Linked DNA regions of Homo sapiens. The protein of the gene in region 3 interacts with the protein of the main gene of each other region in a biochemical or structural test. Each region holds a gene or a part of one and is shown on either strand. Other genes may lie near its edges.

The links.
Region 1: the proteins of VCAN (region 3) and SELL form a complex in vitro, tested with the Homo sapiens proteins (one study listed by BioGRID).
Region 2: the proteins of VCAN (region 3) and SELP form a complex in vitro, tested with the Homo sapiens proteins (one study listed by BioGRID).
Region 4: the proteins of VCAN (region 3) and FBLN2 form a complex in vitro, tested with the Homo sapiens proteins (one study listed by BioGRID).

Annotation. Positions count from the first base shown.
Region 1 is NC_000001.11:169,690,142-169,694,630, forward strand, and holds the end of SELL (L-selectin precursor), read right to left. Parts: intron 1,662-4,489; coding exon 1,643-1,661; 3' UTR 526-1,642; downstream 1-525. UniProt on the Homo sapiens protein: Calcium-dependent lectin that mediates cell adhesion by binding to glycoproteins on neighboring cells. Mediates the adherence of lymphocytes to endothelial cells of high endothelial venules in peripheral lymph nodes.
Region 2 is NC_000001.11:169,606,113-169,613,147, forward strand, and holds part of SELP (P-selectin precursor), read right to left. Parts: intron 7,003-7,035; coding exon 6,817-7,002; intron 6,291-6,816; coding exon 6,105-6,290; intron 5,566-6,104; coding exon 5,380-5,565; intron 3,578-5,379; coding exon 3,392-3,577; intron 1,023-3,391; coding exon 837-1,022; intron 1-836. UniProt on the Homo sapiens protein: Ca(2+)-dependent receptor for myeloid cells that binds to carbohydrates on neutrophils and monocytes. Mediates the interaction of activated endothelial cells or platelets with leukocytes. The ligand recognized is sialyl-Lewis X.
Region 3 is NC_000005.10:83,474,744-83,481,778, reverse strand, and holds part of VCAN (versican core protein isoform 1 precursor), read right to left. Parts: intron 1-7,035. UniProt on the Homo sapiens protein: May play a role in intercellular signaling and in connecting cells with the extracellular matrix. May take part in the regulation of cell motility, growth and differentiation. Binds hyaluronic acid.
Region 4 is NC_000003.12:13,615,100-13,622,134, forward strand, and holds part of FBLN2 (fibulin-2 isoform a precursor), read left to right. Parts: intron 1-2,976; coding exon 2,977-3,186; intron 3,187-3,281; exon of another isoform or gene 3,282-3,449; intron 3,450-3,804; coding exon 3,805-3,918; intron 3,919-4,630; coding exon 4,631-4,732; intron 4,733-6,675; coding exon 6,676-6,816; intron 6,817-7,035. UniProt on the Homo sapiens protein: Its binding to fibronectin and some other ligands is calcium dependent. May act as an adapter that mediates the interaction between FBN1 and ELN.

The DNA.
Region 1 (4,489 bases), on a different chromosome or scaffold from region 3:
GCACGTGTGCACTGTACACCTCCAGGGGATGTACCCTAAACCACATGAATGTGATTTGCACATCCAAGATTTACAGTGTACTATAGGGAGAATCTTTTGCAACAGCTTTTGCTATAATACAGAATCTGAGATGTCTTTGAGAAAGAAAAGTGTAATCATTACCAAAAAATTATTCTCATAATGTGTGCAAATTTGTATGAAATCTATATTGGCCATGGGACAAGGAGGTATTTCCAGCTAGCTTCTGAAAGGGCTCTATTCTCTCATAAGAATTCAGCTGTTGACATTAGGTGATATCTGCCCAGGTCATCAGATGCCATAGAGAAAGAGGGTTTGCTGAAACTTATATCAGCAGTGCACTGTATGCTCTTTCTGATTTATTTGAACATTCATTTATTGAGTGTCAAGTAATGCACTAGATACTCCAGGGATCTGACACAAACTCTGCCCTGAAGGAGCATGTAATCTCACTGGGGAGAAAACAAAACATATGATAATTTCAAAATAACAAACTAGGCAAACTAGTTAACACTTAAAAAGCAGGCTTTATTCAAATGCAAAATTGCATGTTACAGGGTAACCTTTCAGTAAGAAGCCAGGAAGAGGAGCTCATCATGGGTTGGATTAGTAAAGGACTAGTTATAAAAGAAGTGGTGGGGTTGAGGGAGGCCTGAGATGAAATTTAAAGAATATGTAGAATCTAGGTAAGTGGATAAAAGGTCTGGGGGCAGGGGAAAGGAGAGCATTTCATTGTGAATCAAGGAATTTCTCCACCTGTTTTAACTCTTCCATATGACATCAAAGAGATGTCACTTGCAGCTAGCATTTCAGTGATGTTTTCTTACTAATAATATCGTGATAAAAGAAACATTGACTATAAGAAATAGGAATGGGTCTCATAAAAGGAAACAGCAAAACCCCCAAACTAAAAAACAGCGCAGGCTATTTCTCTCTTCTCTCCTTTTGCTTGGCACTCATGAGATGCTAGGTGTGGAAGTCAGCCAACTGAAAAAGAGAGGTGGCTGAAGAAGGTGGGGAGGCTGAAGCCAGTTAAATAGGATGGTCCAATTCACAGACGGCGAGGCTACAGTGCAAATAGGACTCTTTCAACTTGAGCAGGACCCCATTACTTCACTGGAGTTAGAAAGAAAGGAGAGCGTAGACTTTTTGAACTTTCTATAAGAGTGTACCTCCACAGTATACAGAAGACGACGTGAAATTTGATCTGCAAGAAAACTGAGTCCATATTCACATATGTATCAAATTTGCACTTCATTTAGAAGTGTCTGTCATCAAGTACAGCACTGAATTGAAACTGAAAACAAGAGTCAAGAAAGAGCAAAGTCAGCCATCTTTATATTCCACATGAATCCTTTCCCTTTATGGTCTTATTTGTTTCTCCTCAGAAAAGACAAAAAGCTGAGCTGTATAAACACCTGTGGGCTGGGGGTTGAGGGATAAATGAGGGGCGAAATGGAAGCTGAAGGAACTGTTGGTCAGGTAGAAATCTTCCCAGATGCACTGAAGGAAACACACTTCATGTTTGACGTAGGAGGTGCCACCACACAAAACGTTTCATGGAAGGATTTAAAGGATCTCATGATTTTTAGTATTCCAAGAATTTTCTTTCACCAAGGGCGATTTAATATGGGTCATTCATACTGAAAGAAAAACAAAAGATAATAAGAGTTTAAAAATTGCAAAACTTGGAGTGTTAGTAGTAAAGGTAAATATTCATTAGAGATGAGAAGAGGAGCAAGGAAATGCTTTCAGCTGGAAATCTCAGACAAGAGGCCAGGCTTTAGGAACCTCTGAAGATGAACAAATGTAAGCAAACCCTAGTAGCAGCACTTCTCAGATTTTCATGTGCTTACCACTCAGAGATGGTGTTAAAATGCAGACTCTGATTCAGTAGGTCTGAGTGGAGCCTGAGATTCTGCACCCCTAACAAGCTCTTTAGTGATGCTTATGCCACTGGCGCACAGACCCCACTTGGAGAAATTTTTGTGGTGCATACGGTCTTTGTCTCCAGATCTAATGAGTCTGAAGGACAGTGTAGATTGATTTTTTAAATTTATGTTTATTTTAATTTAATTTAATTTAATTTATTTATTTATTTATTTTTGAGATGGAGTCTCACTCTGTTGCCCAGTCCGGAGTGCAGTGGCACGGAGGCAGCTCATGCAACCACGGCCTCCTGGGTTCAAGCGATTCTTCCGCCTCAACTTCCTGAGTAGCTGGGAATACAGGCACGTGCCAGCACACCCAGCTAATTTTTGTATTTTTAGTAGAGATGGGGTTTCACCACATTGGCCAAGCTAATCTCAAACTCCTGACCTCATGATCCACCTGCCACGGCCTCCGAAAGTGCTGGGATTACAGGCGTGAGCCACCGAGCCCAGCTGTAGATTGATTTTGAGCAGTGGAAAGTCAAGGAATTAGAAGGCATGCTTAAATGGAAAGTGAAATTGGAGAAAATTTAAACTCATGAAATAGTGGTGGTTATAAACTCGTGATAAATTATATCCTGGGATATAATTTAATGAGATGGTAACACATTTAGTTTAAAGAAATAAGTGACACTTTTTTTGTGTGACACAACTGTCTTATTCTTGGAAAGGACAAGGAGAGAATGAAATATGGTATGTCTTCACAGCACCTTTCAAAGGGAGAACCAGATTCTGAGGAGCTGGTCTCATGATGAACTGTCAGGGTAAACCACAGTTCAGCAGCTGCAAATGTGCTTGCCAAAATAGAGACAAAAAAATGTTTCTGAAAACAAAATTTCACATATGCCCTCCTCTGAGGTTGGCATCATATCTTCCTGTGTATCTTGGGTGTAGCTTCTATCCTGCCAGAATTTAGACAGTAGAAACCAAATGAGGTGATAAACAGAGTCATTTTGCAGAAGAGTCAAAATAACCCAGCAAGAAATGAAACCACAAATGCCCAAGGAGTCATTCATTCACCATTCAAAAGCTAATAGAAATGAACACAAACTACTATGAAAATTCACCCAAGAACTTAAAAAAAAAAAAAAAGGCTCATGGTGTTTAGTGTGATAGTATTCATTTTACCTTTGACTTGTTCTAAAAACACACCATACTTCTACCCCACCCTTCCTCAGTGCCGTCACACAATGGTTTCAGTGTGAAAAAAAAAACCACGTTACTGGAAAAGGAGGGTGCCTGGGACTTGCCACTCTAAGCTGGTAGTCAAGGGTCTTGAGTTCTAAAAGCATACGCGTTAAGAGCATGATTCCTGGATCCAAATGAGTATGGATCTCAGCATTGCCATTTATTGTGACCTCAGGCTATTTTATTTCTCTGTGCCTGTTTCTTTATCAGTAATGAAGATGTTCATAGACCCTTCTCCCACAGACTTAAAGGCATATTTCATGATTTAAGACATGTAAACCATTCATAACAGTATACAACATGGAATTAATATTTGATAAAGGTTTATGATTATTGTAACTAACTCTGTCACTTGCTCAAGGCCTATAGAAAACTTACTTAATTAGTTCAACTACAAAAAGAGTTTGAATGTGATATCCACCAAGATCATATTCAGACCTAGAATTCTGTGATTCTTATGAATTAATACAGCCTTGGTCAATAAATGAGAGCTGGGCAAATAATTCTTCTTTGCTAGGCCTTTCTAGACCATCTGGTGAAGCATTCAAGACTTATGTTATTGGGGCCAGCCTTCCTTTCCAACTTCAACTCCACAACTCCTCAATAAGCCATGGGCTCAAGAAAGTTCTGCTCAGTGGCCCCTGAAAAATGCTTTCATAGTCTCACTACCATACCACTGCTTACACAATTTCCTTCCTACAGACTGCCTTCCTTTCCTGCTTTTCTCCATATACCTAAATCCTATCTATTCTTCATAAGCAACCTTCTTTATAACATTTTCTATAACCACCAAGCCAAATGACCTTTTCCTTCTTAAATATAGCACCCATTGGCCATTACCATGCTCTGCCTTGTATTTTTCTGATTTTTTTCTTTCTATATTCCTGTCTTAACTCCCCAGCTAGGTAATAATTTTCCTGAAATCAGGGACCAGGCTGACTCCTCTTGCTGTCTCAAGAAAGCTTAGCAGTTTCCAACACAAAAATGTTCAATAAACAACTATTAATTGACTGATTATAAAAAATCAGTGAACCATTAAACTTAATATAGCAATTTGCTTAGCATGGTAATTAGCTTTTTGCTAATATTCTTCCAGCCAGTCTCTCCTCCTGTGCCTCAAGGACATCTTAAAAAAAAAAAATCTAGTTGATCTGCTTCCATCTAGTGGCAATTAAAACAGGTGGTTCCGGTAGCCAGAAAACAGCTCTGGGTAGATTGTGCCAGAAAATACTTTCACTCAGTAGGTGCGAGTTTGAAAGAAATCTTCACATCTGTGGGTTTCCTGCCACAGACATAGGGAGACCAGCCCAGAGAAAGAAGCCTTTCCTCACTAGACTCCATTTGCACTAGTA
Region 2 (7,035 bases), on a different chromosome or scaffold from region 3:
TTGAGACCAGCCTAGCTAAGATGGTGAAACCTCATCTCTACCAAAAATACAAAAATTAGCTGGGTGCAGTGGTGGGCACCTGTAGTCCCAGCTACTCGGGAAGCTGAGACAGGAGAATTGCTTGAACCCGGGAGGCGGAGGTTGCAGTGGGCCGAGATTGTGCCATTACACTCCAGCCTGGGCGACAGAGTGAGACTCCGTCTCAAAAAATGTATGTATATCAAGTACAATGCAGATAGAATGTTTATACTGAATCCACACATTTCTTTCTTCTGAGAATCCCGTAACCTCCAGTATACAGATTAGTTTTTCTCTTTTTTCTATCACTCTTCACCTTATTCTAAGTCTATTTCTCCAATTTTATACAGATCTTGGAGTGTTTGCAACTGGGTACTTGTAAATTCTGCCCCTCCCATTTTACCATTATACCCTGTGGTTCCTAGAAGTGCCAGACCAGCCTTGGGACAACCACTCTGAAGCAATTTTTTTCCCACCTGGTCTTCTTTCCAGATGCCATGTTTGGCCAGGTGAGAAGAGTTTACCTGGTTTGTGGCAGGAGCCTTCAGGTCTGGGTAAAGACCCTGATAAGGAGTTAGCAAGGGCCATGCCCTACTGTCTATGGCCAGACATCCTGACACTTGTGTAATCTGCCTATCCCCCGGAGGCATTTGCATTTGGGATCCTTGGGTTATAGGACAAGAGGATGAGTGAGAGTATTTATGAATTTTCCAGTCCATTTCAAGGTGGATCTTACATAGTTGTCACCTCTAAAATCCAGCCTTTAAAAATACTGCCTACAATTTATTTCCATGATGTTAGAAAGAATACACTCTTACCTTGGCATTCTGGAGGAACAGAATTCCAGTTTCCAGTAGCCAAGCACTGTAGCACACTTGCTCCCACCAGGAGCAAGCCTTCATTGCAGGTGAAGCTGCAGACTGACTGGTACCTAAAGGCACCGAAGGGGTGGGAGCAGTTCACCCGGGCCTCATTTGGAACTGGGAGATCCTGGCACTGCAAAGCTAAGGGATGAGGAAGTAAGGAATAAAGAAACAGTAATACACATGTACTCATTGATTTTTGACCATTAACTCTTTCTAGTGTCAAGAACAGGGATTCCTGAATTGGGCTTGTTTAACATAGAAGATAAGAAAAAGTGTCATTTAATTATAACGGCACATGAAGGATTTTATTAGGAAATGCTAAACCTTTGTTGAGCATCTTGGCAACATGTGTCAATAATTTTTAAGTTATCATGCTTTTGGACCCAAGAATTTATGCTAAGTATGTAATCAAGATGCATACCAAAAAATCTATTTAGAGATTTTTGTGAAGACATTATTTGTAAGAGCGGAATATTGAAAACAAACACAAATGCCATTAATTGAGGGTGGAAATTAATGATGGTGGATCCATGAAAAGAATGTTAAAGGTCACTAAAAATAATATATTTTAACTTGTAAAGATAGGAGAGAGGTCTCAATGTATGATGTTAAATAAAAAATCAGAGTAAAAATTATAATATACACCATGATCTCAAAGATGTAAAATAAATAACCATATACGAAGAGAGCACACATATTCCATGTGTTGTCTCTTCTCATCTTTAAAATGGTAGTAATAATTGTAACTACCTCATAGAGTTAGACTGAGATCATAGAAAGTGCTCAATGAACATTAGCTGCTATATTAGTAGCAGTGGTAGTAATAGATAGTAATAATATCATTAAGGCTTTGCGTCACATGCAGACACTGAGTTCAGGAGTGGGAAACATTCAGAAGGCCTATGAAGGGGGTTAGTGAGACCACATCTCTGGATACTTAAGAGAATATCCAACTATCTTTTCTTGATTAGACATTTACCTTCCTGGAGACAACAATGGCTTGAATAATCCCTTATGATCCGTTTTAAGTGTGTCAAAGAGCTCATTGTGTCTTTTTCTCCCAGATAACATATACAATACATTCCATAACTCAGACTAAGTGTCAGCATCATGGTGTATAGCCATCTATTCTATTGCCTTCTTGTTTTTTCTTTTTTTTTTTTTTTGCTGTTCAATTTTTTATTATAGTGAGATATACGTAGCATGAAATTTAATTTACCATTTACCATGTCACCAATATCAAGTGTACAGTTCAGTGGTATTAAGCACATTCATATTATTGTGCCACCATCACCATTATTCATCTCCAAAACTCTTTTCATCATCTCAAACTGAAACTCCGTATCCATTAAACCATAACTCCCTATTTCCCTCTTCCGCCGAGCCCTTGGCAACCTCCGTTCTACTTTCTGTCTCTATGACTTTGACTACTCTAAGTTCCTCATATGAGTGGAATCATACAGTATTTGTCCTTTCATAGTGGCTTATTTCACTTAGCATAATGTCTTCAAGGTTCATTCATGTTTGTAGCAGAGGTCAGAATTTACTTCCTCTTTAAGGTTGAATAATATTCCACTGTAAGTATGTGGAATACTTTTTACTTATCCTTTCATCCATTGATGGGTGTTTGGGTTGCTTCCACATTTTAACTGTTGTGATTAATAGTGCTATGAACATGGGTGCACAAATATCTCTTCAAGACCTGCTTTCAAACCACTGCCTCATTTTAAAATCAAGGTATACTTAGGAACCCAGAGGAGTCACATAGATTGCTCAGAGGTCTCCGTAAATGAAAACACAAAATGTCAATATTACACTTCTGGAACATGACTTTAGTGTGAGGTACTCCTCGTAAAAAAAATAATAATCCTTGTGAACCACCACACCCGCCCCCCATGAGTGCCTTAGTATAAGAGCAAAAGATTAGAAACCTAACATATTGAAAGAGGATCATTTTGTCAAATCAGACCACAGACATGTGATTTATAAGGTAACATGTCATCATCATCATTTTCCCTATAAATCCTATAAGAGTTTTAAAGTTGCGTTTACACACATTAATTCACAACTACTAGTGAGGCAGGTAGGTAAGGCTGATAATAGTAGCCCCATTTTACAGAAGATACTGAGCCTCAGAGAGTCTAAACCACTAGCTTAAGGACAGGAAGTGACAGGACTGAGCTAAACACCTTGTCCATTACCCTTCCCCATCCCATGCTATTCCTCATGCATGATTTATTCCCCCAAGCCCCATCTTCTTCATTCCAATGCACCCTATATGTGTCAATCAGTGCAAACCTCACCTTGACTATACTATAGTGGACATGTGCCTAAGACTGGCTTCACGCACCGTTTCATCTCATCCCTGGTCCCAAGCACAAAGGACATGGCCCATAGTAGGTTCTCAGTGAATATCTGATAAAGAAAGGCATGCCAATGCTCAGTGCAGATGCTGATGCCTCTAACGAGCTGAGACACACAGAAAAACATTACCACTGTTACAGTACCTTGACAGACTGGGGCTGGTGCTGTCCACTGTCCCAAGTTATCACACCGAACTATATCGGCTCCTCTCAGCATGAAACCTTCAGCACAGCGGAAGCTACAGTTGGTGTCATACTGAAACGCTCTCAAGGATGGAGAGCAATCCATGCTTCCGTGGACAGGACTCTCCAGCGGCTCACACGAAATAGCTAAGTGGAAAAGGTATCTTCTAAAGCCAGGTAATGGAAGGGCCGGGTTCTTCCTCAGAAAAAATTCCTAGATGCTATATCTTTCCTGTCCACATTTTCAGTGTGTTCAGAACCCTAAAACCTCCATTTTCCAAAAGAGAGACTGCCTGGAACACCTTCCCATGCCCCTCTTGGCCTGACTCACTCTCACCTGCCCTTCAGGTCTCAGCTTAGACTTCCCTTTCCTTAGGAAGCCCTCCCTTCCCACCTTAACTAAGGGTAGAAGCCCCTGCAATGTGCTCCCACAGCCTCTGTTCTTGCGCTGTTCATACATGATTGTCATTCTTCCCCATTATACCGTGGTCTCCTCGAAGTTGGGCTCAGTCATTCATAGTTTTATTCTGGAGCTGAGCAGAGTGTTTTGTACATTGAAAGTGCTCATTAAATATTGACATTATCTGTGAAATTGAACCTGAAAAGAGTATATACAGGAAAATGCTGGACTTATAGGGAAAAAAAAAAAAGCTGGACTAGCATAGCTTATTGTTGACACTGTTACCTAGTCCTGTAAAATGATCCTGACCGGGCTTTGTCTCTAGAACACAGGATGTCATCCTAATCAGACTTCAGTTGCCAAGTGAGTGCAGCCAAAGTGAATTCCTGAGCACAATTAAGCCCTGAGTGACCTCAGTTCTGATAAAGATTGGTTTCCTCATGCTCTTCCTTGATAAAGCATTTCATTTCCAGGCTATTTCTGAAACTTTTCAAAGTGTAAAGACTACCTCTTTGCTCTGGGCTTTGACCTCTGGTTTTTACAGACTCAGAGCATTTAAGAACCAAAAATCCGGCTGAGCACAATGGCTCACACCTATAATCCCAGCACTTTGAGAGGCTGATGTGAGTGAATCACTTGAGGTCGGGAGTTTGAGACCAGCCTGGCCAAAGTGGTGAAACCCTAGTCTCTATTAAAAATACAAAAAGTTGCCTGTAATCCTAGCTATTCGGGAGGCTGAGGCAGGAGAATCGTTTGAACCTGGGAGGCAGAGGTTGCAGTGAGCTGAGATCGTGCCACTGCACTTCAGCCTGGGCGACAGAGTGAGACTCTGTCTCAAAACAAACAAACAAACAAACAAACAAACAAACAAACAAAAACACCAAAATCCTCTAGTGTTTCTCTCTTCTCTCTTATGTTTTAGGCAAGAAAAGTGAGGTTCAGAAGTGTTAAGTGACTTCTCTAAAGTCTCATAGCTAGATAGTAGCAGGGTTGGGCTTGTCATCCAGGTCTGGGAATTCACTAATCTATCGTAAATTTCCTATTCTCCCATTACCACTGTCCGCCTTATAAACTGAGGGTGTGAGGCAATTGCAGAGAATTCATTTTGGCGGAATTATGTAATTGCCTGGGATTGCATCACACACTTTTTCGATGCAGTGTTCCTTCCTTTGCTTCTTTGTCAAAGGCTACCCTCAAAGACTACATGGTGAACCACTCTCTTTAGCCACCTTAGCCGCTGCTCCCAACTCCCTCTCAAGTATAGGACATGGTCCTATACCTCGGATATGTCAGTAGAGCAGAAGCTCTATGCTAGGTACTTTATACATGCTATTTAATTGTATACTTTTTATGTACTTAATCCTCACAAGCACCTTGCAATTCTTAGCTCCATTTCACAGATGAGAAAACCATGGTTCCTGGAGGTTGAAGAGCTTGCTCTAGTGCAAGAACTTAGAAGAGATCACCCCGACACTGAGAGCCCTTGGCCTCTCTACCATGCCATGATTCCTTCTTGGACAGAATGGAGGTTGCTAATGAAAAATCCTACCCTCACAGGTTGGCAAGGGTGCAGACCAGTGTCCAGAGTCAATGCAGCGGAGCATGTCCAAGCCCCTCACTCTGTAGCCGGGCTGGCACTCAAATTTACAGCTGGAGCCATAGGCAAAAGCAGTGAGCGGATGAACACAGTCCATGGTTCCTTCACTGGGGGCTTCCAGGTGCTGACACTGCACAGCTGGAGAGAATAACCAAGGATAAAGAGAAAGATACTGAGAAAGGAGAAAAGCCACACAGAGAGCAATGGTGGAACCACCTCTGAAATGCAGGTGGAGCTAGCAAGATGTAAAGGTCAAGAGACCCTAATGATGTTTGTCCAGACTTGGATTACCAGTTCCCAGGGTGATCTGAGTCTGTTAAAAACAAAGATTCCTCCAAGCTGTATTCTTAATGTCCTCTATTCCCTATACTTCTATAAACCTGTCTCAGTAGGTCTTCTAGTGTCCACTTATAGATGTAGAGGCCACCCTTTCTAATCTTATGGGGAAATTATGAATGAGGCCATTCTGAAACTGCCTGCATTTGTGTTTGGGGAAAGAAAGGAATTTTTTTCCTTTCTCATCTCAGATGAACCCAATCTAGCTGAATGGCAGGTAGGAAGAGAATTAAATTTTGGCAATTCAGGCCAGCTTCTCCATAAGCTGGTCAATTTCATCTATGCACTAAGTAAGGACTGGGTGCAATGGACATTATACATCCCAACTACCTGAAACTCACCTTTACACACTGGGGCTGGGGCTGTCCATACCCCCGAGGCTGTGCATTGCACCACTTCCGGTCCAACTAATGCAAATCCCTCTTCACAACTGAAGCTGCAGCTAGACTGATGCTGGAATGCTTTTGCAGAATGAAGGCAGGTCATGTTTCCTCGTTCAGGAATCTTCAGGGGTGGGCACTGGGCAGCTAAAACCAACCACAGAATAATAGTGTGAGTCCTTGGACAAATTTTGTCCATCACCTTGGAAGCCTTCAAATTCTGCAGCAGTCACACCTTCCCAAAGTGGCAGGCAGGTTGATGCACTAGAATGGTTAAATGGTGTTTTCAATAGCTGCTTGGAAAGATCAAACACCCTTGTTTTTCATGTAGAGAAGTTAGGTAAAATTATCAAATTAATAATTCTTAACCCCTAAGTCCTCATCATTGTACTCTGTTTACTTTACAATTAACAAAGGGAAAGAGGGGTCCCTTTGTAATGTTTTTGCCTGCGAATCAACAATTAAACTGACTAAGTCACTCTACCCATAAAAAAATACCATGAAAATTGAAATTAATGTTACTCTGGTTGACAGTTAACAGTGATAACCAGAGTTTTCCATCTAACCTAGATGGTCATTATTTCTCACATTTTTTAATGGAGAAAGCTCATTGTGTCCTCTTCTCCCCCAAAATTCTATGTCAGTGAGGATGAAAAGAATAAGGTCTACATACCTAAACACTGTGGAGGCTTATTTGTCCAGATTCCAGAAGCCAAGCATTCCAGCTTGCTGGGCCCATTTACTTGGTACCCGTCAGTGCAGTGGAAGCTGCACTGCGAGTTAAAAGAGAAGTTTCCCAGAGGGTGGCTGCAGTTCATGAGCACGTGTTGAGGGAGCTCAAGTTCTCCACACTCTCTCACTGCAGGAGACAAAATAGTGATTTTTATTTTCC
Region 3 (7,035 bases):
ACCTTTTCAAAACAAAATTTTTAAATTCTATAATTCTAGACACTCTCTGAAGAGCATTTTTTAAGCTAATACATTATACATCTTATATTTTCCATCTATAGACCAACTGATAATTCACAATGAAAAACATATGGTTGATAATCCTAAATTAACCCTGATAATTAAGTTTGTTATTTATCCTATAATCACTAGGATCTGCTAATAGACTTTGTTAAACACTAACTGGGAAATGCCATAATGTTTCTATGTTTCTGGATTTCTTATAAGACAGCACAGCAAGCAGGAAGTATATACCATATATCTATGCTATTACAATATTTTAAGGAAAAATAAAGGTATCAATTGCACAGCCAAAGTAAAAGATTGTATTTTATGATAAAAAGGTGTTAAAGAAAATGCATTCCATGAGTATTAGCTGAATCCAAATAAGAAACCTTTCTTTATGGCATGAACCCGGGAGGTGGAGGTTGCAGTGAGCTGAGATTGCGCCTGGGCGACAGAGCGAGACTCCGTCTCAAAAAAAAAAAAAAAAAAGAAATTAAAGATCTCTCTTTAATTATACTTATAAATAATAATTTCCTACTTTTCTTCAGGAAAATTTGTTCTCTATTTTTTATTTTTCTTTTTTTCCAGGAAATCTTTATAAGCCTAATTTTAAAAGTCTGGGCTCCACTGTCAAATAGCCCAGAATGCAAGTTCTGCATTCTCTACTTATATTCTGTGACTTTGGGTAAAATACTATATCTCTCTAAACCTCATTTTCTGTCACTACTTAGTTGTGAAAATTAGTACTTACCGAAGTGATCATAGGAATTGATAAAATAATGTATATAAAATAAATCTCAGTGATATACAATATATCAGTACTCAATATTTATTATTAAAATTACTAATTCAGACTTTCTGCAGATGTTCTAACATAGTTTCATATCACTAAGAGTAAAAAGAATAGTATTTGGGGCTCTTACATTTGAAAATTATAACCTAGGTTACCACTATAGTAGCAATATACACTTTATGCTTGGAATAAATCATCCTATAATTTATTGCTATGTACTTCAAATTATCTGTAAACATGTCTAATCTCCTCTGTAGAACAGTAGGCTTCTGGAAGGCAGAGCTAGTACTTTATTCAACTTAATAATTCCCACAATATTTCTTCATTGCCAGGTTCAGGGTATATCCTTGAGGAATGTTTGTAGATCAAATACATGATCAACGCCTCTATTTCTTATGCAGAAACACCTTTGAAACTCCGTGCCAACAATTCCTTAACACCTGAAATACTTTTGAACACTTTTGAATCAGTCCACTTGAAGATTTACCATGACCCAATAATATGATGTTTGTCAATATCTAGAGAGTCAAATCTCATTTAAAAAAACCAAAGGTGTGACCCAGGAAAGGATCTTCTGTATTTGAGTTTCCTACTCAATTTAAATACTAAAAATCGAACTCTTTGTGCCACACTCAATCCTTATAAAAGTGTCTTTTGTTGGGGAGAGGAGAATGGTCCTCCATCTACATAGGTACAACAAGTATACGCATCACTTTCCTTAAGATTACCCCTAAGACTAGGTAAGAATACAAGGAGGAGATCAGACATGCTCTAAATACATTTGAATAAGTTGCATAAATATGTTTGAATAAGTTACTCAATTTAAAAATTAGACTGTTTACACTAAATATAAGATCTCTAACTTCTTTCAAAAAATCAGAAGGTCTAGCAACACTAAGTCTATATTTCAGCTGGCTGATCATGAGCATTAACCAAGCAGCAGTCTCTCCCCTTAAGTCTGTGTGCTCAAGGCCATTACTGCCCCCACTTAGTCTCTTACCCATTTCCACTCCATGCCTCGCCCCTGTAGTCACCTAAGTTTGCAAACCTTGAATTAAAAGATGATCATTTATTTCTACAGTAAATATATCAGAGGGCTTTATTGACTTTAGCTGCCTCAGAACTACATTTCCATTCCCTCTTCTTTGGAGTCCAAGACGTTCATTCCACTTCTGTAATTTTCTCAAGGCTATGTCCCTATCCTTGGTCATTAAGTTACATCTTTTGTCTTCTATGTTTGATCATATTAAATGGAAAGCTTTCAGAAGCCTCTTTCTTTGTTTTTAGCACCACTCCAAATCCCTATTTCCATTCTTCCACTTTTCCATGTCTCTCTTATAAGCACCGTCTACTAGTGATAACAACTCTGTCTGCATGGAAAGACCTGAGAGATATGAGAGTGAATGCCTATATTTAGCCTTCTACTCCAGTGAAGTCAATGAGAAGGGAAGAAAGTCATTGAACAATCCAGGTACAGGGTACTGAGACTGTTTAATTGCCTGGGAGACATAAAAGACAAGGTCAATGGAACTCCTATCCATGAGAAATGTCTGCAGGGAGGATAAGGGACACACCAGGGATGGGCAGCCTCCGAGAGAAAGCCAAGATTCTATTAAATAGATATTTAGTATTCTCCCTTGATTTTGGGGAAGCTCAGCTGACAAGGGGTGACTTAAGGACAGAGACACGGTGGTTTTGTCCACCATTCTGCTAATTAGGTACCCTAGACAACCAACTTTCTAGGATACTTCAGCTACAAAGTGGATGTAATGAGCATCACATATCATATTGCTCACTGGTTCTTTCTCACAGAAAGAATCATTGTACAGCAGAGAGAAATCACGTGATTTAGGTGTGAAATTTCATGAATTTACTTCATACAAGTAATAGCATCATGTGAATTCCTGAACCTGGACTTGGCTAAGCTTTTTCACATTGTCGCCCCTTAGCACTCCTCTGTTCTCTGCCTGGTGAACTCCTTTCTCATTACTCTACCTAAGACATACTGTACTCTATTCCCTTTCCCATGCTCTATTTTCATCCTAGCACATATCACCATTTTGCATATGTGATTGGGAATTGCCTTTCTCTACCTACCATAGTAAAAGTTCCAACAGAGCAGTCTTTGATGTTTTGTTCACTCCTGTATCCACAATGCCTAGAACACTCAGTAAATATTTGTTAAAAGAATGAATATACACCCATTTTACATAATTAGATGTATAATATATACTCAGTTTTATCTATCAATTTTTTCACTTAGAATACAATATATTTTGGAGAATGTTCCAAATCAGCAAATACAATTTTTCCATGTTATTTTTGACAGCTGCATAGTTTTCCATTAGGTGGATACAGCAACTTTTATTTAAATGGTTCCCTATGATGAGCCTTTACACTGTTTCCAGATATTTGCTCTTAGAAGCAATGCTGCAAAGAACATCCTTGTCCATTTGTCTTGGGTGATATTGGTACCAATATCCATCCATATAATAATGTCGAGAAGTGGAATTGCTGAATCAAAGAGTATATACATCTTTTAAAAACTTTTGATAAAGAATCAAAAAAAAGTGATTGCCAAATTATTTTTTGAAGTAGAGGAACCTATTTACTTTCATACAACAGTATATGAGAGACCCAGTTTCTCCACAACCTGGCCAACACAAACTTGCATCAAACTTTTTAATTTTATTTTTGCCAGGCACAGTGGCTCATGCCTGTAATCCCAGCACTTTGGGAGGCTGAGGTGGGTGAATCACTTGAGGTCAGGAGTTCAAGATCAACTGCCATGGCCAACATGGTGAAACCCCACTCTACTAAAAACACGAAAATTAGCCAAGCATGGTGGTGGGTGCCCATAATCCCAGCTACTAGGGAGGCTGACACAGGAGAATTGCTTGAACCTGGAAGGCGGAGGTTGCAGTGAGCTGAGATCGTGCCACTGCACTCCAACCTGAGTAACAGACTCCATCTCAAAAAAAAAAAAAAAGAAAAAAATTATTTTTTTTTGTTACTCCTCTGATTGGTGAAAAAATGGTGTAGCATATCATTGGTGTTTTAATTACTATTTATTTAATTACAGATGAGGCTGAGCGATTTTTTCTATAATTTTAAAACTCTATGTCTCTTTCTGCCACTACCTGTACATAATTTTTGCTCATATTTTGATAGATGTGGACTTTTCAAAGTTATTCATAAAAGTCCATGGAATATCAAGAGTTATTAGCTTTTTGTCTCTCAAATGTCGTAGATGTTTTCCAAATATATTATTTGCTTTTGTGTAATTTTTACTTAGTCAGACCTATCAGTATTTCCTAGAATGGCACTGGGTTTTATGTTTTGCTTAGAACAGGTTTCTCTATTCCTAACTTATTTTTTTTAATCCCATGATTTTCTTTTATCATTTTGTAAAAAGTTATTCCCTACATTTCATATTTGATTCATCTTATATTTCTTTTAGGATGAGAAATCAGGTAGAGACTGATTCTTATTTTGCATGGACCCATCAATTGTCCTGAAACCATTTATTGAATAATTCTTCCTTTCCACTGAATGTCCAACTTCATTGGAGTCAATTTCTGTAACCTGTCTTCTGATTAATGAAACTAAACAATTTTTAAAACAATATGCCCCTCTCTGATTTATTTTATAGATTCAGTAGAAACTACATGGCTTGGGTAATGCAGTTATTATTAAAATTATAGAATTAGATCAATATGAATCCCAAGACATAATATATTATCATCCCTTTTTTGTATAGTTTTTCAAAGTACTTACTCTTTTGATCTTTATAACTGCATATTCATTTAATAGATTATGACACTAAAGGTCCAAAAGTAATATCTTTGCTTGGTTTTCTCAGCTAGTGAGTCCAACTCAAACTTTCTGATTCCAAGTCTAGTGCTCATTCCACTATACCTCAAGTAATATCAAATCAATAATTTAATAATAAAAAGATTATAATTTATCAAATATGTTTATTGTAAAATATGTAATCTCATTTTATAGACATAAACACCTCTTAAAATCCTTAGAAGAATGAGGTAGGATGTATACAGATGTGGAAAGTATATACATTTGTATCCTTTTATAGTTGGTAAATCTACCCAGAGGTGTGTTTCAGGAAACAGAACTGACACATTAAACAAAGATTCTCTGTACTGACCTCTGAAATACAACCACCTCTAACACATTCAATGGTAAGAACTTAGCAGTGTTTAAAAACCCTGTATACATACACACACACACGCACCCCCCACACACACACAGACTTTATATATATGTAATTTACCAAGTCTAGGCTACAAGAGGAAACTGGCAAAAATTCACTAATTGAAATGGAGCTTGGCCAAGACATCCATATCTAATCCCCCTTTTCTGATTCCAAATCAGGGAGAGTACATGCTTTGTGTTTTCTGGTAAAATACAGACCTATGTAACAATCAGCATATTTTCTCAGACCAGAGCAAGTAACTCCCAACAATGAGTGTTTGTCAGTCCTAACTGGTTTCTCTACGTGGGTGGTGAAAAAATACCTTACTACAGTCATTAATTCTTTCTTTCAAAAGAACCATGTGTCTTGAGAAGTTCTGCTCCATCACAGGGCAATATCCCATTTTAAATACAGTGTTTACCGATGTTTGTCCATGAATGACGTCAACAAAAATGTTTAAATCTCACCAGGAAAGGAGGGCTTAGTTGCCAGACTTTGGGAGACAGAGTTAGTTGATCTTTGCGCTCTCAAAGGCTCTGTTACTCAATTAAGTGACCAATCATTAACTCCAAAGTATTTAAGCCTAATAATACAACAAAAGAGAGAACAATGGGTAGTATCTTTAACATTAATCATGGTCACCTTTGGTTTAGCTGTTTAGGTCCTTTCCTAGCAGAATTTACAAGTGTATAGATACAGGTATTCTGGAATATCAAAGGCATCTCCCTCCAGTTTGCAAACACAGGGAAAAAGAAGAAACTTACATCTGTAAACCTATGTAAATCTAGGGGGATTCCTTTCAAACCTCGTTTTTTTGAAAGCAGGAAATACAATTTAAAACCAACTCTGTTTTTATCTACCAAAAGAATCAAAACTTTGAATTCTGACATAAATCCTAAATGATTGTCTTGAATCTCATCCCGCTTCCTACCTAATCTTCTCACAAGAAGATTAAGGACTGTGGACTTGGTGCTGGAGGAAGTAATTGCTCAATCACATTGGAATCCATTGGAACCCTTTACAATATTACTGCGGGCAGACAATACAATTCTAACATATTTCTTTCTTTACTCAGAGCTCAGAACAAGAAGTCAGACTCTTGGAGACCTTCTCCCTGATGTACTGCTCTTAACATTTCCAAGTTACAAACTGGGAACCGCTTCTATCTCAGAACACTAATTGTTGCTTCCATTGGTACCTTCCTATTTTTATATTACACTCACAACATCCTATTTTAGGACTTTATGTGAATATTTTCAGGATGGGTTTGGCGAAATTGTCAAGAAGTGCTTAAAACAATTAGGTCACAGCTTTCAGCAGACAAAAAGAAAAAGACGTGGCTGTTAGCTACAGAATCTGAGGTGATGGAAAAGATCTTTAAAATCCAGTTCTTCCAATATGCAGCAAAATGGGAGGACTTAAAATGCAGCTCTAAGAAGCACCGTCTCGTCTGCACCAAGCTTCTCCAGGTTTCCAGCTCAGTCACTCCCTAAATAGGTGCTGAGCTTCCAGTCCCCGCCAGGTCCCCGCTAAGGTTCCTCATTGAGGCACAGGAACCTCAGTTACACTCGCAGCCCTTCCATGTTTGCCCCCATGAAATTCTATTAGTCTTGTCGAATGGCAGTATTTGCCATTCCAGGCGAACTCTTTATGACAGTCTGGAACGAAATTAATCTGTTAATTGACTAAGAATGGGCTTTAGAGTGACCTGAATGTATTTAAAAAGTCAACAAATGGAATACGGTATAAAGTCTCATTTTTCTGACAAAAAGTTTGCTTGGAGTAAATTTTAACCTCTCCCCTGCCTCAAAACAAAAGCACGATGCCCCTCCTACCACTCCCAAGAAGCAAGCAAAAATAAAATAAAATAAAATAAAACTTAAATAGCCTTTTAATAAGAGTGTTCAGCGCTGTCTGGATGGAACTCGGGTCAGCTCCAGAAGCAGCCGGCCCCGAATCCTGGGGGCGAGGCCACTCGGCTCTC
Region 4 (7,035 bases), on a different chromosome or scaffold from region 3:
TGTCCAGTCCCTGTCCCCTAGCCAGGGCTGTCTCCTGGACCCATGACCATTAGCCTCCTCTGTGCCTGGTGGGTCTGCAGGAGCCTGATGAGGGTGCCCCAGTGAGTCAGCAGATGTCCTTTTTGTACATGGGCCTTGGTGGCCCTGGGGCTGGTGCCGTGAGAGTCCTGGCAGGCCTGCTTTGTTGGTGTCCACATGTTCAGCCTCAACTGGTTGGGGACCAGATGTCCAGGTAGGTTCCAGAACCACCAGCCCAGTTTTTTCGCTGTTCCTATGGACCGTCATCTGGGGCCCCTGTGGATTTGTCCTGGGCACTTCATGGAGTGGGAATTAAAGCCACAGATGAGGTCCTGGTATCAAGATTAAACTCTTGGCCTCTGGAGTCAGGCAGACTTGGTTGGAATCCTAGTTCCTTTGCTTACCTGGGGCAGGTCACACAGAAGGAAGGCTCCTTCTCAGAGCCTTCACTGTGGCATCTGTCAAATGGTCTTGTATTCTTTACCTTGTTCAGTGCAAGGATGAATGATAGGATGCCTGTCAAGGGCTTTTGGCAGTGCCTAGTGATGCATTCAGCATTGCCACCACTGTTGCTGTTACCGTTGCCGTGCTTCAGCAGCTCAGAGGGGGAAGATGAGGCCCAGAGAAGGGCAGGATCTTGCCCCAGGCACATGCCGGGTCTTTGGCACAGCCAGGACTGGACACCTTGGCTCTAATGACTCCCACTTCTGCCCCAGCCTTCCTGATGCCCTGAGTTTTATCTAGACCCAGTCAGCCTTGGTTCCGATTGACCCAGATCTCTGTCACTATAATGCAAGATGGCAGAAGTCTGTGCATAGGGGTTAAGATGCCTGCTGTCCACAGGTGCCAGGGCTCAGGAGATCCTACAGGAAGAGCTCATATCCTGTGTGGTACAGGTGGGAGAACAGATACCTGGATCTCCCATCAGGGTGAGGCAGAGGCAGGGGTGAGTGTGTGGGGGTTGGACCAGGCCAGACCTGGGCAGATCAACCAGAACAGATGTACCAACCACCCTTGCCAATCCAATGTGGGTACAGAGAGTAAGTCCAGTCCAAGGAAGTGCTACTTGCTGAGATTGGCTCTAAGGGGAATGGTTGAGTACTGGTGTGAAGGCCAGGTTAGTACCCAGAAGAGTCTGGCTGAAGGTAGAGTTTGGGAGGAAGTCCGGCTTCAAAAGTCAAAGGCAGGTGGGTGGAAGGGAGTAGGTGGGCAACAGAGCCAGGCACGATCCTGGCCAGAGATCCATGCTTCCTCCTGTGAGGAAGATGCTGGTGAGGGTGAGCTGAGCCTGAATCCTGGAGGTACTGTCTAGCCTGTGGTGTGCTAGGAGGAGCCCTGGGTCCAGGTCTGTCCGCCGCCTGCCTGCAGTGCTGAGTCTCTGCGGGACCAGACCGCCAGCCATCATGGCCCTGCCTGGAGGCACCGGCTGGGACTGATTGGGCTGCAGCTTAATGTAAACACCCTCCATATGAAACACGTTCCTCATACGTGACTTCATGCAGCTACTCTCTCTGTGGGCTCTGCTGCCTGGGTGGGGTGGGAAGGAGGCCCTGGGCTGGCACAGAGCTTAGAGGGGCTGTAGGCCTCCCCCTGAAGTCCTGGCTGCATGCTTTCCCCACAGTTGTCATACAAAGAGCTTCCCAAGGCAGCTCAGCCTCAGGAGCCTTCTTTTCCACTCTCACCTGCTCCCCAGCACAACCCTGGGAGATGGGTTTATTCCAGAATCTGGAGGCACAGAGAGGCCTAGTGCTGCCCAAGTTGACCCAGCTAGGGAAGGCCCAGGTCAGTGGTCACATCTGATCCAATAGAGCCCAGATTTGGAGCCCTTTCTGCTGCTAAGGATGATCCTCCTTGATGTCACTGAGGTCAGGGGTCTGAATCCATTGTAACACTTTAGTGAGAGCTTCTTTGTGGATCTGACCCTGTCCTATTGTAGAGGACTCAGTGATGAAGACTTGGACCTGGCTCTGATGGGTTCATTCTTACTGCTTGAGGTCTGTTCATTCATTTGCCCATCCATTCATCAATCCATCCATCCATCCATCCATCCATCCATCCATCTATCCATCCATCCATCCATCCATCTACCTACCTACCAGTCCATCCATCCGTCTGTTCATCTGTCTGTCCACCCATCCATCTACCCATCCACTCATCCACTCTTTCATCTACCCATTCATCCATCCATTCAGCCCCACACCCATTCATCCATCCATTCACGTATCCATCCACCTACCCATCCTTCCATTCACTCATCCACCCATCCACCCACTCACCCATCCATCTATCCATCTACTCATCCATTCATCTACCCATCCATCTATCCATCCACCCACCCATCCATCCATTCAGCCAAATACTCATTCATCCGTCTACCCATGTATCCATCTATCCACCCATCCTTCCATCTACCCATCCATCCTCCTTCATTCATCCACCCATCCAGTTACAACCCATCCACCCATCCATCCATCCATCCATCCATCCATCCATCCATCCATCCACCCATCCACCCACCCATTCATTCACCCACCCATCTACCCACCCATCCACCCACCCATCCATCTAACCATCCATCCATCCATCCATCCATCCATCCATCCATTCATCCACCCCCCCCACCCCCCCACCCATTCATTCACCTACCCATCCACCCACCCATCCATCTACCCATCCACCCACCCATCCACTCACTCACCCATCCATCCACCCATCCATCTACCCATCCATCTATACCCATCCGTCTATCTATTTACCTGCCCACCCACCCATCTATCCATCCATCTATCCACCCATCCACCCACCCACCCATCCATCCATCCTGCTTCATCCATCCTTGCTGTCTGCTGGGCACACAGAGGTCTTGATGAGGACCTGCACTAGTTTCCCAAAGCTGGTTGTCTCAGCCACCTACTCTGACCAAGCTGGCTCTGTCTTGAGCTCTAACCCCTGTCCTAGTTTCAGAGGCAGAGATGGCGGGCCGAGAGGCCCTGTCACTGGGCACAGAGGCCGAGCTGCCGAACAGCCTGCCGGGCGATGACCAGGATGAGTGCCTTCTCCTCCCGGGAGAGCTGTGCCAGCACCTTTGCATCAATACTGTGGGTTCTTACCACTGTGCCTGCTTTCCTGGCTTCTCACTGCAGGACGATGGCCGCACTTGCCGCCCAGGTAAGGGCCCTGATGGCCAGGGCAGGGGCTATGGGAAGGGCTGATCTTGCCAGGGGGTGTGGCATTCCTGGGGTGCACACTGTGGGGTCCTTCACTTCCTGTTACCCCACAAGTTGGAACCCACAGAAGCCTGAAGCTTCCAGTGATGGGGGATTTGTGAGGCAGGAAAAATAGAAGCTTTCTTCCTGGGGCTCCATCTGCAGGGACCTGGCCCCAGCACCTTGTCCCATATTCGAGCGCAGGGACAGGCTCAGGCCACAGAGGCTCTCACCAAAACCCAGCTATCTCCCCAGTGCTGGGCCCATGGTGATCCTGAGGGATTTCCTCCCAGTCACTGGTCCCAGAATTGATTGGTTTTTAATCCAGACACTCTTTTTCCTTTCCCCCCTCTCTTCTTCCTTGCCTCCTTTCCTTCTACCCCCTCTGCCCCCAGTAGCTGAGATTGATCTTTCCCAAGGTATATGCACACTCCAAACCTCATTTTCCTCTCCTGTGAAATGGGGTGGGGGATTAAATGTCAGTGCCCTGTGTGAGAAGGGCAGGTGCCTGGAAGTGCCTGAGGCCTGGCTGAAGACCTGAGACCTCCCTGCAACCCCCACTCTGCTCTACCCATGACAGAGGGTCACCCTCCACAGCCGGAAGCCCCACAGGAGCCTGCACTGAAGTCAGAATTTTCCCAGGTGGCCTCTAACACCATCCCGCTGCCACTGCCGCAGCCCAATACCTGCAAAGGTAAGCAGTGTGGGTGGTGTCTCCAGGACAGGGCCCAGGGTCCAGGGGGTGGGTCTGGGCTGCTTGCAGGTGGTGAGCTGTCTGGTGCTGGGTATGTGCAAGATGGCCCCTCCAAAGGGTGTGCTTCTGTTTTGGGGATGATGGGCTTACCCTGGGCTGAGTGAGGAGCTGAGGAAGTCACTGGGGAGATGTGGTGTGGGGACAGCCTAGGGCCTGGTGTGTGACCCCAAACCAGCCAGTTAGCTGCTTTTTGTCTCCATTCTTGTAACGTTGAGGTAGTCAAATCCTGGTTTGCCGACCTGTTGTGGAGGCTGTGTTCAGCGCTGTGTAGAAAGTCCTCTTCTTTGTTGTTCTTCTCCTCATTCCCTTCCCCTGCTTTTTTCCCTGCCCCCTTCCCTTTCTCTTCTTCCTTCTCTCTTCTCCTCCATCTCCCCATTGTTCTTGCTGTCACGCAAGGCATGGGCTGGGATCCGAGTGGTGGGGGAGGTAGACCCAGAACGTCGTCCCCGACGCCAGACGGTGTTGGAGCAGACTTAATGGATGAACCTGTGAAAAGGACCAGGAGTGGCGTTCCTTGTCTCCCAGCATCCCTGCCTTCTAGGGGCCTTGTTTCTGTGTCTCACTAGTAGGTTAGAGCCAGGGATGGGGAATGAGCCAGTGTGGACCAAGGCCAGGGCCTGGTGGTCTCTGATTTCTGTGTGGTTTCCTCCAGACAATGGACCCTGCAAGCAGGTGTGCAGCACTGTTGGGGGCTCAGCCATATGCTCCTGTTTTCCCGGCTATGCCATCATGGCGGATGGCGTGTCCTGTGAAGGTGAGTGCCTTGGGGTGCCCTCCTACCTGTGCAAACCTGAGTTGGCCTGTGATGGGGGCCTCCAGGTGGGGGTGGCTGAGACTTAAAACTTGCTGAGTTTGTGCAGGAAGAGTCTTGGCTGCTATGATGAGCACCCCTAGTGGAGCAGGTTAAACAGTCACTCCCTCTCACCGTACGTGCGGTGTATACATGCACTCCAGGGTGGGCCTGCAGTGTGGCTGCATAGGAATGGGGCCCGGGCTCCTCACATGGTGTCGCTCCGCATTTCCCGGAGCAGTGCTTCTCCTGCCGAGTGTGCACCTGAGTCCCTGGAGGCCTGGGTCAAACAGGCAGTCCTGAGATTCTGCCGAATCCCCAAAGATCGAGTCAATAGGTCTGGGTGGGTGGGCCTGAGAATTTGTGCTTCTAACAAGGTGATACGGATGCTGCTGGTCCGCGGACACCACCTCCACTCACCTTGCCCTTGAGGGTTGCCCTGGTCTGTGCAGCCATGTCCAGGCCTGGGTGGAGAGGGGGAAGGGGAAGCAATGCCGGTTGTTTTAAGGGCAGCCAGAAGTGTCCCCGATGGGGAGTGGGAGGGAGGCTGGACAGCAGGAATGCCTGGCTGAATCTGTTCCCAAATGAAGGACACTGGTGATGATTAGCTGTCCAAGGATCACATACCTTCCACCCCCGTGGCCCCGCCTAGGTCTGGGTCTTGTCTTTGTGGGGCCTCTGTGGGCCAGGACCCCCCACTGTAAAATGAGGCCATTGGATCCAGCACCTGCTGGGTTGGTTCCCACAGTGAATGGCTTCTGAAGAACCAAGCTGAGAGGTCTCAAGACTCTACCTCCTGCCTGGGGGCAGGACAGAAATGGAGTATGCAGAGTCTAGGAAGTATGGCAGTTCTGGCTCAGAGATGAGACCCTGGTGGGTGTCTGGGGGAGAACAGAGTCAAGTCTGCCTGGGTGAATACCCACATCCCTCCCAGAAGCTGAAAGCCCGTGTCCATCCCCAGCCGAGACTGTTCTGATGTGGACAAACACCGTCCTACGAGCCCAGAGAGGACAGTAGACTTGCCCAGGGTACATGACGTGGCAGTGACCGGCAGGCCTTCCTCTCCGATGCTGGGGGCAGCTCTCAGGTCCAGGTGGTGCTGGGTTCTCTGGGCCCCGCCCCCCATCTCCCAGGGCCCTGAAGATGTAAGAGCTGCATCTTTTCTGGGGCAGGCCTCCTTTGGGCCCAGCCCTGTGAGGCCCCTCTGCCTGTGCTGCTCATGCAGCCTAGCCCATGTCTGCGCATCCCCAGGACCCCCTCCCTCCTCTGGAAGCCCTGGCAGTGAAAGCTGGGGTCCAGGTTGCAATGGGCATTCAGAGAGGCACCTGCTCTGCGGAGGAGCGCTGCTCAACTCTGCTGCATTGGAAATAATCAAGTGAGTTCCAAACGTGTTGAGCACAAGAATGATTAAAACACTTCCAGATTTTAGGTTTCTCTTGGTGTGAAATCTGCATACAAGGGGCCCACACCCCTGTCCCCTTTTGGATGGAGCACAGACACTCAGTGTCCTGGAGCCCCTGTGGGCCCTTCCCTGGTTTATGTGGCTGGCCTGGTCCCCTAAGTACTGGACTTTGCAAGCTCTCGGGGGCATGGTTCTCTTGGCGCCCGTGGATGTGGGAAGTATCGAGTGCGTACGGGAGGCAGCCTCTGGTCCTGTCCCCACTGTGACCGTGGGCAGCCACCCACCCTCTCTGAGTCTCACCTCACCACCGTCCTTACTGGGGCAGTGGGGACCAGCTCTGCACACTCACACTTGGGCCCAAGGCCCAGCTACACACAGTCAGGCGGGGAGGCCCCAGACAGGCCCCTGCCCCTTGCTGGGTCTCATTCTCCTGTCACTGGATGCTCCGTGGCAGCCCATGTCCCTCTAACAGTCCTTCTGTTTTTCCTCCTGCGGCTGCCACTAGACCAAGACGAGTGCCTGATGGGTGCTCACGATTGTAGCCGGCGACAGTTCTGTGTGAACACCCTGGGATCCTTCTACTGTGTCAACCACACAGTGCTCTGTGCCGATGGCTATATCCTCAATGCGCACAGGAAGTGCGTGGGTAAGCCAGGGCCCCGCCTGCCGCCCGCCGTCACAGCTCTCCGCTCTGCTCCACGCCAAGCCCACCACACTGTGGCCACATGCCAAAGGGCCTGCCCTTTGCATGTGAGCTCTCAGCACAGCCGGCATCTCCGTGCTCTATGTCGTGCCCTTGTGTCCTGGCGTCTTGTCCCGCTTGGCTGCCAGCTCCACCCGGAGGCTGCTTTCCCCAGGGACGTGT